Linked DNA regions of Homo sapiens: region 1 is linked to region 2. The links come from fine-mapping of genetic effects on gene expression. Tissue or cell type: whole blood. Region 2 holds a variant in brackets; the other region holds the start of a gene. All regions are shown on one strand. Distances are between the middles of the regions.

Region 1 (8,134 bases), 74 kb before region 2:
AAGGGTTGACAGTGCCTTGTACCACAATATATATTCAATAAATGCTTCCCATTATCCTTCATTTTAAATTATCCAGGTATTTTAGGCAAAGGCAATATCTAATTATCACTCTGTTCTTAGAGATACATGATTAGCAAATATGTAGATTAGAAAGATACACTCTCTCGGAGCCACACAGACACGCCCAAACATCCTTTGTCCAGACCCTTTGTGGGCATCCAAGGCCTACTCAACAGGGCCTTGCTGTGTCATGCTGCCACCATGGGGAAAGGGGGAGGACAAGGTGGTGGTAGAGGGGAGCAGAAGCTCTCTGGCATCTCACCATGCGTGCCTCAGTCAGAGCTTGGATTTTCCTATTAGCATTCCCTCACCAGTTCCACTGAATTGCAAATAATCATTCTTTTCCAGAATCTGTCCCCATACCTAGGAGTTTCCCCAAGGGTAAAGACCAATCTACTTTCTCTGTACACAAGTGGTGGGCTTTGTACACAAAGCCATTCAAGGCTGCTGATTAACTTTCCCTCACTATTTAATTAATACCTTGCCATTCCCTTATATTAGCCCACAGGTAAGCCTTAACAATCCATTTCTCTCTAGCCTACCTCTCCTTCAGAACAAAACCTAGGTGCTAAAAGAACTTTCCTAGCCAGGTGCAGTGGCTTACGCCTATAATCCCAGCACTTTGGGAGGCCGAGGCAGGCAGATCAGGAGGTGAGGAGTTCAAGACCAGCCCAACCAACATGGTGAAATCCTGTCTCTATTAAAAATACAAAATTAGCCAGGCGAGGTGGCGCATGCCTGTAATCCCAGTTATTTGGGAGGCTGAGGCAGGAAAATTGCTTGAACCTGGGAGGTGGAGGTTGCAGTGAGCCGAGATCTCGCCATTGCACTCCAGCCTGGGCAACAAGAGCGAAACTCCATCTCAAAAAAAGTAATAATAAATAAATAAATAAATAACTTTCCTATGCTGTAACAGGGATCTCTTTTCTCTGATCCCAGTGCTCGAGTATACTGATGATAATGAGAGCAAATGGATTGGAAATCCATTTGGATTTAAAGTAAAGTTCAGATTGGAAGAAGGTATTTTAACAGAATCAGATACTCTTCCATGCGTTAATGGATCTATCACTTTCTCTACTCATTCTACCCAAGCCCTGCCTGATATTTTAGGACTATTAGAGCTGCCTACAGCCTCCACCCTGCTACTTACTAGCCAAGGGTCAAGAAGCATTAGTTGTGGTCGGGCGTGGTGGCTTACGCCTGTAATCCCAGCACTTTGGGAGGCCGAGGCGGGTGGATCACGAGGTCAGGAGATCGAGACCATCCTGGCTAACACGGTGAAACCCCGTCTCTACTAAAAGTACAAATATTAAGCCGGGCGCGGTGGTGGGCGCCTGTAGTCCCAGCTACTTGGGAGGCTGAGGCAGGAGAATGGCGCGAACCTGGGAGGCGGAGCTTGCGGTGAGCTGAGATAGCGCCACTGCACTCCAGCCTGGGCGAAAGAGCAAGACTCCGTCTCAATAATAATAATAATAAATAAATAAAAATTAAAAAAAGAAGCATTAGTTGAAATGTTCCCAAAGGAGCAGAAAGAACATTCTATCACCTCCAAAAACAGAACCCCAAGTTTCAAAAGGCCTTTCTCCAACACACCCTATTGGGTCTCACCAGGCCAGAGACTCCTAAATAATGGCCTTAAATAGGTTCCAAAATGCTCCAGTATAATGTGAAATGACTGTACTAAGGCAGAAAAAGAAAGTGTTAATCTAGAACACAGTGATGTGTGAGAGTGTGGGGGCTTCAGGAATGGTGAGTGGGTAGGCTAGGATGTTTTTAATGTTGAAAGTGAATTCTGAGTTGTTCTTTTTCTTAGTTTAAGTTCCAAAATAAACCCTGGGAACTGAGCATTACTCAGCAGAGAAGCTGCTTAGAAGGAGGGTGATGCCGGGATTGCAGCAGGGTCGGGGAGCATGTTGGAAAGGTGAGGTCATCATCCTATGATACTCAACTCTGATAATCTCCATAGTACTTTGCAGAGACGTGTGCAGAAAGAGAGCTACAAAAAATGGTTGTATCCATTAACCAACCACCCACTGCTTAAATCTGGGACTATAGAGATTCTAAGAAGCATACCTAGGAGTCAATACTGTTATGGACTTGTGGCTACAGGGATTCTTACTGTTACCAGTTATTTTCACAGCTAGCTGGGTTCTTTTCTCTATCCTACCTGACAAGTCTTCTCCAGAATGAGCTTAGTATAATGCAGGCCACATTATAGGCTCTTTAAAAAATAGAATCATGGGGCCAGGCGCGGTGGCACACGCCTGTAATCTCAGCACTTTGGGAGGCCGAGGCAGGTGGATCACAAGGTCAGGAATTCGAGACCAGCCTGGCCAAGATAGTGAAACCCCGTCTTTACTAAAAATACAAAAATTAGCCAGGTGTGGTGGCAGGCGCCTATAATCCCAGCTACTCGGGAGGCTGAGGCAGGAGAATCGCTTGAACTGGGGAGGTGGAGGTTGCAGTGAGCCAAGATTGCACCACTGCACTCCAGCCTGGGCAACAGAGCGAGACTCCATCTTAAAAAAAAAAAAAAAATAGAATCATGGGGGGAAAAAATCATAGAATTTTAAAACTAGAAGACATCTTAGAAATTAATGACTTGGGAAGACTTCCAGCCAGTTTGTATAGAATCCAGATCTCATAATTCCCAATCTGATCCCTTTTTGTGTTGTACATGGATAGTTGCCAACAGCTTTATATAACCCTATACCAGTATTCCCAAAACTTAAAAGAATTTTTAGTTGCTGAAGAATAGATTTTCCGTGGTTTAGGTGATTGTTCCTGTAATTGTGATCTGAATGGGGAAAAGCAAAGGGCAGTAGAGCAAGCTAGAATCTGAGAAAAAAAAAAAAGCTCTTCGACAAACTGACTCCTTTTCTTACAACCAGAGTATGTATAAAAAACTGCTCAAACAGTCCCTGAGTGTTTGGTAGAGCTATCTTGCAATTTAAAAAGCTAAAGCAAATTTTATGAAATATTAACTCAAAAGGCCTAAAATCTCTATGTCATTGACCCAGAGACATGTACACAGGGTACCAAATACATTCAAGAAAGACATGCATGCAAACATACGTGGCATTAAAATCAAGTCAAGAACATAAAGTAATACTACACAGAAAATTGAAGTTAAAATGCTATTCACTAATGTAAGTAGTAATGACATTTTTGATTTAATATAGTATGGATTTAATTATCAAATACTCCAAATTTCGCAAAAGATCCTTTTTTGGCTAGCTTCCCCTTCCCCTCCACAAATGCTCTCCAGCCCTACTTCATCTATCTTTACATCTTTCATTATCTTAAATGGTATCATTTACTTAAAGGGTTTTGACAGTGCCTTGTACCACAATATATGTTCAATAAATGCTTCCCACTATCCTTCACTTTAAATTATCCGGGTATTTTAGGCAAAGGCAATATCTAATTATCACTCTGTTCTTAGAGATACATGATTAGCAAATGTATAGATTAGAAAGATACACTCTCGGAGCCACACAGACACGCCCAAATATCCTTTGTCCAGACCCTTTGTGGGCATCCAAGGCCTACTCAACAGGGCCTTGCTGTGTCATGCTGCCACCATGGGGAAGGGGGAAGGACAAGGTGGTGGTGGTGGTAGAGGGGAGCAGAACCTCTCTGACATCTCATAATGTGTGCCTCAGTCAGAGCTTGGATTTTCCTACTAGCATTCCTCCACCAATTCCACTGAGCTGCAAATCATTCTTTTCCAGAATCTGTCCCCATACCTAGCTCCTGTGGGCTATACTGATTTCACTATGGAATCAGGCAGTTCTCCAACACAGAGGCCCCCACCTTTCCTACCCTAGGCTGCCTCTTTCTTTGGAGCAAAGATTCGAGGTGGAATGAAAGAGATTATCCAAAGAAAGGTCAGGATTACACCCAACATTATCCCATATAACCCCCTCCCAAACTCCCTCCTACAGAGAAACATAGAACACTACAGAAAAAAATTGCAAGTATAGGGAAGTAGAGGACAGAGAGATACAGTAGGACTAAAAATTAAACAGCTGGTAAAACAAATTATGGTTTGAAAAGGAAGATAAGTAGACTGAAGATATTAAATACACAGGACAATAAATTACAGAAAAGGATACTTGAAATGAGGTAGGTGCTGAGAAATAACTACAAGTAAATTGTTAGAGATTAATGGTCTGTATAAGGTAACAAGGCATGGATGCTGTGAAGAAATAACTACCCATTGTTCATAGCGCCCCCTTCTCTCCTCTTCAGCTGTCCCCCACCTCATGTGGGGTCTTTCAATCTAACCATAAGCAGCCGCTCTTCTATCTTTGCAGCCCCCTGCCCCCTCCCTCAGTTTGGTTTACCTGTTATCAATCAATTACTGGCGTGTTCCAAAGATGGAGGGAGTGCCTCGGGAGCTCCGGGGTCTGCGCCGGGCTGGAGAAATACAAAGCTGTTGGGGCTTTGACGGCTTTGTCTTCTCACTCCTTTTCCCTCTTCAGTGACTGAGTCTGTCAGTTCACTCTCCCCCTGCAATGCAGCCCCTCCTAAGAAGGGCGGAAGGATTCCCCGCCCCCTCCTGCCTGACTCGGCTAATTCAAATGATAGGTTCCAGAACACTTGAGGGAAGGAGAGACGATGAAAGCATCTCCCTAGGCTCATTGGTCTGCGCTATTATTCCCGATCTCTTCCAGCACCCCCGTGCTGACTGGGGGCCCAATGAATGAGCAGTTAATTGCCCTCTAATTTTAGGTCCTCTAATTTATGGATTTGAAATCTTAACTCTAGACTACAATGGAAAGGAGGAGTATTCCTTTCTTCCACAATTTAAGGACTTTAGGTTACAAAGTATTTTTAAGAATCAGAGTATTTTTCCACCCCTTCTCCCAATCCCTGCTCCTCCAGACTCGCCTCTCTACCCTCACAATGGGTAAATAAACCTAGTCCTATTCCATTTTGGGTAGAGCACAATAAATTTGGGGTGGGGGGCGTGCTTCTGCGAATCTCTGAACTTGGTTAGGTCTGGGGGTTTGGGGGGCTCCGCTTCGTTTTGCCCCGAAATGCCTGGCGAGTAAAGGGAACGTGAGATTCCGGGGGCCCCAGCTTGGGTGCCAGGGCCTCATCTAGGTGTCCGCATTCTCCAGTTCTCCCCGCAGGGGCGGCGGCCTTGAGGGGCTGCAGAGGCACCCTCCCACGTCCCGCGCAGTGCAGTGCCTCCGCAGTCCAGAGGGGAGCAGTGCGCCGGGCTCCGAGCCGGACGGGTTTCGTAATCGCGTCGCCGCCGCTTCCGCCCTCAGCCGGCCCCACCTCTGCCGGCTCGTACTCGGCTCCCCCACCTCGCCGCAGAGCTAGCCCGGGAAGCCCACACTGGCGGCCACGGAGCAGAGTCCCTCACCCCCACCAGCTGTAGCTGAACGTCTGGATGGTGGAGAAGAGCAGGTGAGGCCGTGCAGTTGGTCCCCTGGCCCGCCTGCCGCGCCGGCCGGGCCAGGCGGAGACACACCGGATGCGGGGTGTGGGGGAGGCGGGTGTCCTGGGCTGCAGAGATGCTGGGGTGGTGGGAAAGGGGTGCGCGCCCGGGGTGGCCGTAGTCATCCACGCTCCTGGGGTGCGCAGGCTGAGGCCGCTGAAGAGTAGAAGGAAAAGAAGGAACTGGAATGTTGGGGGAGGTGGGAGGGAGAGGGTCCGAAAGATTCCCAGAGAGGTCCCAGTCCGGTTAAGGGTTGAGAACAGCAGAGAACTTCTAGGTAGAGTTGTGTAGTGGGGGGAGACAGATACGGAATCTGTGTGATTGAATATATTTGGGGAGGGGAGGCTTAGGGCCTAGCCCTCTTTCCTCTTAAGCCCCCAGAAGACCTTTCCTGGGGAAGGGAAGGTTGGTGTTGGGCCTGTCACTTGGCTGAAATATGGAGTCCACACCGCTTCTCCAGAGTCCCTCAGCAGCCCTCCATGTCTCGGGGTCTCCACACAGGGACCAGCTGCTGCCCCGGGCTTCTAGCCAGAATTGCCCATGCCATTCTCTCGATTCTTTCTTTCTCTCCAGCTGCTTCATGTGAGGGCTTGTCAGGCCGCGGGTTGGAGGCCTTAGGGCCAGAGGCGGTGGGACCGGGAGAACCGGTTTGGGGCCCGAACAGGACCAGAGAACTAGCCTGTACATCCTTCCTCCCTGGCACCTCTTTCCCATCCCTTCTGCTCACCTCCCAACAGCTCTGAGACCCTCAAGTCCTAGTATGATCTTGGTGGGGGCGGGGGGTGGCTTTCCCGGTTCCATATTTCACTCTTGCCATTTGGAACTCAGAGAGGTCGAGTTCTGAGCACCACTTGGCTCTCAGGACGTGGCCTTATGAGGTCTAATCCTCATCCCTCCTGTTGTTTTCTCAGCCCCTTCCCTATTCACTGTGGGGTTGGATTCGGGTGGCTCTTCCGCCTGGGCTGACCAGCTCAGGACTTCATTTTTCCTCAACCCACTCTCTTCTGGCTGCTTTAAAGAAGAGTGGCCGCCAGTGGCTCTTACTTCCTTTTCTGGCTTTGTTCCCATCCCCCACTGCCCTGCGCTACCATCACATTCACCCTGACCTGTCTTCTTCACACTCTGACCCCACCCTCAAGTTTCAGAGACCCTAATGTCCTAGGGAATGGAATTTCCTGGTCACTTCTCGTCATCATTGGTCATTTCATGCCAAGTCCCACACACACGCTTTCCCTCCACCCAGCTCTGGTCAGGTCCCTGGAAAAGAAACAGAAATGGCCTTGTTCTCTCCACTGCCCCTTTCCCTCTCTCCTTCTCCTCCCCCTCTCTTCTCTTCCCTCCCAGCACTATCCACCTCTGTCCCTCAGCTTTGAGCAGAGTGGGGGATGTTGAGGGAGAGTCCAGTCACAGTACAGCCTGCCTGCTGGTGTTGGGGGTTTCCTCTAATTCTTCATTTTTCCCCAACCCTTACCACCTGCCACCACCACCATCAGGACAAACCCTATGACTGACTCACTGACGTCCCACTGACCACAGCTCCCCTCTCTGGACAGCGTGTTTTAGCTTCCGCTCCTTCTGGTTACTCCTCCCTTCCAGTGGTGAGAAGAGAAGAGAAAGCCCAGCCTCCTGGGTTCTCCCCTCCCCTAGAAGCTACATTTGAGTGTTTGTGTGATCTCATCTCAAGGCTGTTAAAAAAAAAAAAAACCTCTGTGTGTGTGTGTGTGTGTGTGTGTGTGTGTGTGTGTGTGTGTTTTGTATTTGAGACAGGGTCTTGTCCTGTCACCCAGGCTGGAGTGCAGGGGTGCAAACATGGCTCACTGTAGCCGCAACTCTTGGGCTCAAGTGATCCTCCTGCCTCAGCCTCCCCAGTAGCTGGGATGACAGGCACATGCTACCACACCCTGCTATCTCGTTTTTTTGTGTGTGTTTTTTTTGAGGCGGAGTTTCGCTCTTGTTGCCCAGGCTGGAGTGCAGTGGCGATCTCGGCTCACTGCAATCTCCGGTTCAAGCGATTCTCCTGCCTCAGCCTCCCAAGTAGCTGGGATTACAGGCATCCGCCACCACGCCCAGCTAATCTTTTGTATTTTTAGCAGAGATGGGGTTTCACCATGTTGGCCAGGCTGGTCTGGAACTCCTGACCTCAGGTGATCCGCCCACCTTGGCCTCCCAAAGTGCTGGGATTACAGGCGTGAGCCACCACGCCCGGCCTATCTCTTGTTTTTAAATCAGTCTAGGGTGCCAAAGCATCAGGGTTCCCGGCCTGCAAGAAAGGGAGATTCCTGTTCATGTTAAAGTGTCATATTTATGAAACTGCCCTTTTTGGAATCTTTGAGGTTGTCTGTACTATAGGACTGGGGAAATGCAAGTGAGTCTAAGAAGAAACCCAGATGTGTCCTACCCTGGCTGGCAGTAGTGAGAAGGGAGGAAGTTCTTCCTTGGACACTAGTACTATTGGAAAGTTCCTTATGTCTGGTTCACTGATGAAGCTTGAGGATAGAATTGGTGAGGAGGGAGGGGAGAACAGGTCACAGCTGGAGGGGAGCCTGGGCCCTATAGGGTGTGAGGCAGAGCAGAGTGGCAGATAGGACATGTGGACGGTGGGGAAAATATTCCTCATGG
Region 2 (8,134 bases):
TTGTTAGCCAGGATGGTCTCGATCTCCTGACCTCGTGATCCGCCCGCCTTGGCCTCCCAAAGTGCTGAGATTACAGGCATGAGCCACCGCGCCTGGCCTGTTTATTTATTTTTTTTGAGGCAGGTCTCACTTTGTCACCCAGACTGGAGCGCAGTGGCGTCACCTCGGCTGACCGCAACCTCTGCTTCCCAGGCTCGAGATTCTCCTGCTTCAGCCTCCCAAGTAGCTGAGATTACAGGCGCTCACCACTACCCCCTGGCTAATTTTTGTATTTTTAGTAGAGATGGGGTTTCACCATGTTGGCCAGGCTGGTCTTGAACTCCTGGCCTCAAATAATCCACCCGCCTCAGCCTACCAAAGTCCTGGGATTACAGGCATGCGCCACAGCGCCCAGCCCGAGTTTTTCCTTTTTAGAAACAATTCAGAATTAGCCAGATATGGTGGCCTACGCCTGTAATCCCAGCTACTTAAGACACAGAGGCCAGAGAATCACTTGAACCCAGAAGGTGAAGGCTGCAGTGAGCTGAGATCACGCCACTGCACTCCAGCCTAGGCAACAGAGCCAGACTCTATCTCAAAAAAAAAATTTTTTTTTTCAGAAAAATGGGCCTATGTTATTTTCTGACTACCACTTCTTTTTTTCTTTTTTTGAGACAGGGTCTTGCTCTGTTACCCAGGCTGAAGTGCAGTGGAGTAATCACAGCTCACTGTAACTTCTAATTCATGGGCTCAAGCAATCCTCCCACCACATCCTCCTGAGTAGTTGGGACTAGAGGCAGGTGCCACCATGCCTGGCAAATTTTCTTCTTATTTTTGTAGAGACGAGTTCTTGCTATGTCGCCTAAGTTGGTCTTGAACTCCTGACCTCAAGCGATCCTCCCACCTTAGCTTCCCAAAGTGCTAGGATTACAGGTGTGAGCCACCATGCTTGGCCCCTGACTACTACTTCTAAGATAAATCTTTTATCTACACTCAAGAGTGTGGGTCTTGTAATCCAAATACACTACAAAATCATCTACTGCTGGGATAGTTTGTATTTATGACAGGAATTTGGACAGATAAGTACAACTCTTCAAATGAATCTTAGTGTTGACTCATTATAATCATACAGGCTTTATTGGGCAAGTATAATAATCTACTGTCAAGATAGAAATCTCTAGATGACAGAACAATTGCTTATATTTACTAACTTTTGGGCAATCATCAACATGGCATGATGGCTTCTCAACCAGTCTACAGAAAGCTATTCCATCTGCCAAAATGATAACTACTTTTTTAGTCTGACTGTGTCACCCAGGCTGGAGTGCAGTGGCGTGATCTTGGTTCACTACAACCTCCGCCTCCCAGGTTCAAGCAATTCTCCTGCCTCAGACTCCCAAGTAGCTGGAATTACAGGTGCCTGCCACCATGCCTGGCTAATTTTTGTATTTTTAGTAGAGACAGGGTTTCACCACGTTGGCCAGGCTGGTCTCGAACTCCTGACCTCAAGTGATCCATCCACCTTGGCCTCCCAAAGTGCTGGGATTATAGGCGTGAGCCACTGCGCCCTTCCTGAACTTTTTATTTATAGATTTTGGGGGACAGTTCTACTAATAGGAGACCTAATTCAATCAACAGAATAACTGGATTCTATTGGTGGAAGCACTCAAGCCACAGTCAGCAGTTTAAGTACGGATAATATGGGCTGGGCGCAGTGGCTCACGCCTGTAATCCTAGCACTTCGGGAGGCCGAGACAGGTTGATGACCTGAGGTCAGGAGTTTGAGACCAGCCTGACCAACATGGTGAAACCGCATCTGCTAAAAATACAAAAAATTAGGATAATGTGGTGGCGGGCGCCTGTAATCCCAGCTATTTGGGAGGCTGAGGCAGGAAAATCGCTTGAATCCAGGAGGCGGAGGTTGCCATGAGCCGAGATTGTGCCACTGCACTCCAGCCTCCAGCCTGGGCAACAAGAGTGAAACTCCATCTCAAAAAAAAAAAAAAAAGTATGGATAATGTGGAACAAAATCTGACCAGCGTGGAGAAAGGGGGCCTTGGGTGCTAAGAGCACTTATCGTATAGCTGACAAGGATGGTCAATATCTTACATCGTGAAGTGTTGTGTAGGGAGACTGTATAACTTACTAGCTACGTGACCTCAAGCAAGGTACTTAACTTCTCTGGGCTTCAGTTTTTTCATCTATAAGATACGGATGGATATGGTTGTGAGGATTAATTGAAATATGTGTGCCCTGCTCAGGATAGGCTGTGGCACACAATCAGCACCTGCAAAATGCCAGCCCTTGTCATTATTCTTGCTAGTGTTATCACCATCACTCTGGCAACAACTAAGCCTGCACAAGGCACTGTCTTACAGAGCAGATTCATATCTCTATTTGGCCACCTAGACATTAACAAGGCCAAAATGTTAGTTTCAGGGCCCCTGGGAGCCAACTAAGTTAGTTCTCACCACAGCTCATTCCTCCACCCCTGTGTAAGCCCTGGTGTGTAAGCCCTGGGAAGGAGAGCGGCTTGAGGTTTAGACGGTGTATATAGGATGGTTACATAAGCAGCAAGCTGAGACTTCCTCTCTCCTCCCCAGTTTCTGTTCTGGGGAGGGAAAGGAGTGCCCCTCTCACCTGGAGGGCTTGATGAAGTTTGTCAGCAAAGTACAGCGGTGTGTTCTTGATCACCGAAGCTGGAAACAAAGATGGAAGGATGGAGGTTCACAACTAGGACCACAATCTCCCATCCCAAGAGAGACTTACTTCACAAATCCTGAGCAGGCCCCTACCTAGGCCGAGCAGAGCCACCTGAGCATCTCCATGGAAACGGTTCTGGACAGCCTCCTCCAGCTCTTGCCCAGTGCTCCGCTGGTACTGATCAAACACTTGTGTGTGTAGGAGGCAGTTAGAAAGATGGATGGGGGATTAATTATCTCTGGAAAGGATGGGCCCTCCCCACCTTCCTCAGCCCAAACTGATCATTAGAGCAAGCTAGGGGGACAAGAAGGCTTGTGTGTACCTCGGATGAGGTGTTCAGGATTTCGCTGGGTGAAGACTGGGACCCATGTTTCCTCTCTGCTAGGTCCTTCTGCCCGCTGCAGTGCCTAGGAGGGAGGAATGAGTCAGGGAGGAGTCAATCAGGATCATTGGTTGGGGCCTAGGGAGCCATGGGTATGACGTTCCAGAATCTATCATCATCATGATGGAAATGGGATTGAGGGTGGAAAAGGATTTTTTTTTTTTTTTTTGAGAAGGACTCTCATTCTGTCACCCAGGCTGGAGTGCAATGGTGTGATCCCAGCTCACCACAACCTCTGCCTCCCAGGTTCAAGTGATTCTCCAGGCTCAGCCTCCTGAGTAGCTGGGATTACAGGCACTCACCATCATGCCTGGCTAATTTTTGTATTTTTAGTAGAGACGGGGTTTCACCATGTTGGCTAGGCTGGTTTCGAACTCCTGACCTCAAGTGATCCACCTGTCTCGGCCTCCCAAATTGTTGGGATTATAGGTGTGAGCCACCACGACCAGCCAGAAAGTTTATTTTAACCCGTAAACTAGGTTTGTGTGTGTGCGTGTGTGTGTGTGTGTGTGTGTGAGAGAGAGAGAGAGAGAGAGCGAGAGAGATGGGGTCTCTCTCTGTCACCCAGGCTGGAGTGCAGTGGCATGACCAGGGCTTACCTCAGCCTCAACTTCCCAGGCTCAAGCGATCCTCCCACCTCAGCCTCCTAGCTAGCTGGAACTACAGGTGCAGCTAATTTTTAAAAATATTTTGTGGAGATAGAGTCTCACTATGTTGCCTAGGCTGGTCTTGGACTCCTGGGCTCAAGTGATCCTCTTGTTTCAGCCTCCCAAAGTGCTGGGATTACAGGTATAAGCCACCATGCCTGGCCTACTAGTTGTTTTTATTTATGTTTTTTTATCTTATGTTTTTTATTTTTTAAGAAAGAAATAGGGCTAAGAGAGGGCTCTGCCCTTACAGCCTCACAGCTCTATTCACTGATTTGGAAAAATCCTGGTACCCGAGGATTAAATAATCCCCAAAAGGTCTGAGGAGGCTTTCTGCCCCCAAACGCTCATGAGAGGAGAATATGTCAGTTGATGAGCTCAGGAGTCAGAGGCTAGATGAGTGAAAAGGCTTCAGCTATGACGCTACCTGACACCTCCTGCCCCTACCACATAACTGAGAACTCCCTCTCCAAGGCAGGGATGGGTTTGCGGGAAAAATGGGCACGTAGGTCACCGGCTCTAAGATATGGTGGAGGAAGGCATCTTATGTGCATGGCGGCTGTGCACACTCCTAAACCCCCTGCTCACCTGGACATCTTGTTCTGCCAGATTATAGTCAATGATTCCAGAGTAGCTGTCACGGCCCCCCTAGGAGGAGAAACTGTTCTTAGAGGGCTCTTTGAAGGGCACCTTTTTATCTTCAGACCAACAAGCGAAGGCTGGTCTCCCCTAAAGCCCTCTCTTGTCCATTACAGGACAGCAATGCTCCCTGCTCCAGCGTGTCTCCTTGCCTGGTGAACGTGACTCCCTTCCTTGCAGGTCAGTCCTCCTCACCTTGGCCAGGGCCAACAGCAGGTCCTGCAAGATGCCACTGGTCTCAGATGTGATGTCATCCACAGCCTCCACCTGGAAATCTGGGGTGGGGTGAGGAGCTCTCTGAATCCTCCTGAGTTTTCCTAGTGTAGATATCCCCAGGACCTGCCAAATGCCTGACCCGCTATACCCTGCCAGCCCTGCTAGCCCCTGCTTGGAGTAGCTTGATGGCTGCTAATTCCCAGGATGTAAGG[C/T]ACAAGTACCATCACGGCCACTCTAAAAACATCTCTAAGTTGTGAGGTGTGCAGTGGCTTCATCACCAAGCACCAACCTGCTGGGCAGGAGGCAACCATTATTAGAGTTGGGGCCAGGCAGTGAAGAAGAGCTAGGGAAACCCGTATTATAACACAAGATGGTTAGGACCTGGCACCCTCATTGGAGGTAAGGAAAAATGATATGAGAGGTGGGATATGAGGAAGGAAAAGAGCAGGAAAGGGAGAAAAAGAAAGAGAAAAGGGAAACAGATGCAAGAAGGAAGGAAGGTAGGAGAGGGATTAAGAACATAGGCCACGGCCAGGGCGGTGGCTCATGCTTGTAATCCCAGCACTTTCAGAGGCTGAGGCAGGAGATGGCTTGAGCCCAGAAGTTCGAGACCAGCCTGGACAACACAGCGAAACCCCATCTCTACAAAAAATACAAAATTTAGCTGGGCATGGTGGTGGCACACCTGTAGTCCCAGCTACTTAGGAGGCTGAGGTGGGAGGACTGATTGAGCCCAGAAGGGTCAAGGCTGCAGTGAGCCATGATGACATCACTGCACAGCCTAGGCTACAGGGCAAGACCTTGTCTCAAAAGAAGAACATAGGCCAAGATTAGACATCAAAGGAAAATTGGGGAAAGCAAGAAAAAGAGGTAGGGGTGGGGGGAAGGGGTGGTAAGATGAGGATGGGAAAAAGCCACAAATTAGTGGGTGAGACACTTGTAGCCAAGCAAGGCCAGCCATCAGGGACATGAAAGGTGACACCCATGACTCAGAGGGCAGATTCCCACCTTTTCCTCAGGCTGCAGCATGGCTGGGTTCAGCTTGGAATGTGGTGTGATGGCAGGGATGGCAAGGGGCTGGGAAGGTGACATGAGTACCTTTGGGACTGTCACTTTGGAATCTGCCTTGGAGCTCCAGATTAAGATGGTTAATCATTGCTTCTCTCTCTTTATTTGTGTGTGTGTGTGTGTGTGTGTGTGTGTGAGAGAGAGAGAGAGAGAGAGAGACATGCTCTCACTCCTGTCACCCAGGCTGGTGTGCAGTGGCAGTGGCACGATCTCAGCTCACTGCAGCCTCAACTTCCCAAGCTGGGGTGATCCTCCCACCTCAAACTCCTGAGTAGCTGGGACCACAGGCGCACACCACCATGACCAGCTGGTTTTTTTGAATTTTTAGCACAGATGAGGTTTTCCTTTATTGCCTGTGACTGGTCTTGAACTCCTGGGCTCAAGTGACCTGCCCACCTCAGCCTCCCAAAGTGTTGGGGTGACAGGCATGAGTCACCGTACCTGGCCTGCTTCTCTTTTTTTAATGATCACATCTGGGTCTCTCCCCTGAGAGACTGAGGCACTGGTGGGGGCAAGAGGAAAGACCCCAAGGGAATAGAACTTAGGCAGCCAGGTTGCCAGATAGCTCACCTATGGGGAGTACAGGAGAGGAGTGGCCTGTCCTACAGCCCCTTCTCCAGCATCTGGGACCCCTCCCTCTATATTCTTACTGTGTTTGTAGACTGCCAGGCACTCCTGCAGCTGGGGTGGGGTTCGAGTGGCAAGAATTTCAATGGCCACGTCCACAGCAGAATCTGAGGCCTACAAGAAATTGGGAGTCTACTCTCAGACTGGCCGTGTCATTAGGATGGCAGACAGAGGGGCAGACGCTGGCTGCTTCTCCTTCTAAGAAACAATATGGGACGACGAGAGGGGGACTCTCGTCTTGCAAAAGCAAGGCTGACAGCCTTCTCCCTTCCCCAGACACCCCAGCAAGTCTCCCCTCCTGCTACCTTCAGAGCTGTCCTCAATTCCTGGGCGTCAAACTGGGCTGTGGGCTGCAGCAGAGCCATCACAATCCTCTCCAGGTTGCCGGAAAGTGCTGCCTGTAGAGACTTCATCAGGTCCTACAATAAATGGTCCTCACAGCAGAGGGACGGGGGTGAGGGGAAGGGCCCCAGAAGTGTGGGGAGGTTTGGGAAGATTTGGCTGGTTTTCATCTCAGGCCCTGTTTAGCCAGGAAGCAGGGGCTGGCCTCAGCGGCTGTTGCTGTCTCTCGAGTCCTCCAGGGGGTTTCTCACCCCAGTCCACTGCTGTGGGAGGTCAGCATGGCCTCACCTGTTGGGTGCGCTCCTGGAAGTTTCGTGAGATGAGCTGCCTTTGCTCTCTGCTCCGGTTGGTCAGCACGTCCACAATGGCACTGCGGTCCACGCCTGAACCGAGATGAGGGCTGTGCTGTGAGCAGGGTCTTTACATAGTGGGATGTTCCTACTCCTTGGAGGAGGGAAGGCGCTCCAGGAGAGGGCTGGGAAGGAAAGGAGCAGGGGCTATATCACCCCCACTTCCATTTTATCTCAAAAGAAGTTGCAAATAAAATGTCAAAACAGCATGCAAATCTGACCCAGACCAAGGCAAAGGTGGCCTGGTGTGGTGGTTAAAAAAAAATACGACTTGGGGGGATCGGCTGACCTAGATGAGAATACCACCTCCGTCATGAGCTGAGTGACCTTGGGCAAGCCTCTTAATCTCCCTGAGCCCCAGTTTCCTCATCTGGAAAATGGAAATAATAAGCCTTGCCTCACAGGGGTGTTGTGAGAATGGGTTTGACACACCTACTGTGGCGCCTGACATACAAGAATGAAGGCATTCCACAAACATTTCTCCAACATCACTAGTTCCTCCTTCCTGGCTCCTCCTTGGTCTACAGATTGGCTCTAAAAGGCAGTCTCAAGTGCCGGGGGAAAGGGGCTCACCTTGGCCAGTAATGGCCCTCAGTAGCCTCTGCGCATCCTTGTCCACGCTGAAGTTCAAGAAGGTCCTGAGGGTGCCCAGGGTCCCCCACGCTGCAGTCTGTGGGAGCACAGGGTAGTTGGCAAGGGCCAGGGCCAGGCTGCCTACACCTCCTCAGCATAACCTCAGGGCCTGTCCTCCACTTTCCTGCCTCCCATCCTCTCACAGCCCGAGCTGAGATACTAAAAGTGATCTCTAAAATCCCAACAGCCCCTACCTTGCTGGCCAGGCCCAGGTGGCTGAGGATCTCCTGGGTGAGGGACGGTGCCATCTTCCCGCCAGTCACAGACATGGTGCTACTGGTTGCCCTGGGGAAGGAAACAGGAGCCCACAGAGCTGAATTTCCTGGCCCTTCAGGGACTCCTTATGACCCCCCCGAGACCCTGGACCCTGGGTTCCAGTCACCTGTTCCTTTCCTTGCTGCAGAAAAAAAGATCAACCTGCTTAGGCTTGGAGCCAGAAATGGAGCTGAAATGGTGAGGTAAGAGGGGAGCCCCCACCTTCCCCACCTCTCCCCACTCCTTTAGGAAGTGGGGATTGATGCGGAATGCTCCTGGACCAGGCGCCAACC

Evidence for each region. PIP is the estimated chance that this variant, and not a neighbour inherited with it, causes the effect.
Region 1: MLLT11 starts here. The variant in region 2 is fine-mapped to the expression of MLLT11 in whole blood (TOPMed, PIP 0.91).

What each region holds. Positions count from the first base shown.
Region 1 is chr1:151,056,829-151,064,962 of GRCh38, reverse strand. It overlaps MLLT11 (MLLT11 transcription factor 7 cofactor), which reads right to left and starts at 4,566. Exons shown (of 2, transcript NM_006818.4): 1 at 4,410-4,566. CDC42SE1 (CDC42 small effector 1) reads left to right here and starts at 5,341. Exons shown (of 5, transcript NM_020239.4): 1 at 5,341-5,484. RefSeq lists an enhancer at 4,429-5,020 and silencers at 6,884-6,933, 6,944-7,003.
Region 2 is chr1:150,982,827-150,990,960 of GRCh38, reverse strand. It overlaps ANXA9 (annexin A9), which reads right to left. Exons shown (of 14, transcript NM_003568.3): 3 at 7,781-7,871; 4 at 7,527-7,623; 5 at 6,892-6,986; 6 at 6,567-6,680; 7 at 6,285-6,375; 8 at 4,546-4,625; 9 at 4,300-4,359; 10 at 3,005-3,089; 11 at 2,775-2,870; 12 at 2,620-2,678. The coding sequence starts at 7,855. Among named protein-coding and RNA genes, the nearest start is that of ANXA9, 4.6 kb to the right of the region's middle. RefSeq lists an enhancer at 7,284-8,134. The variant C/T (reference allele first, on the strand shown) is at 4,779.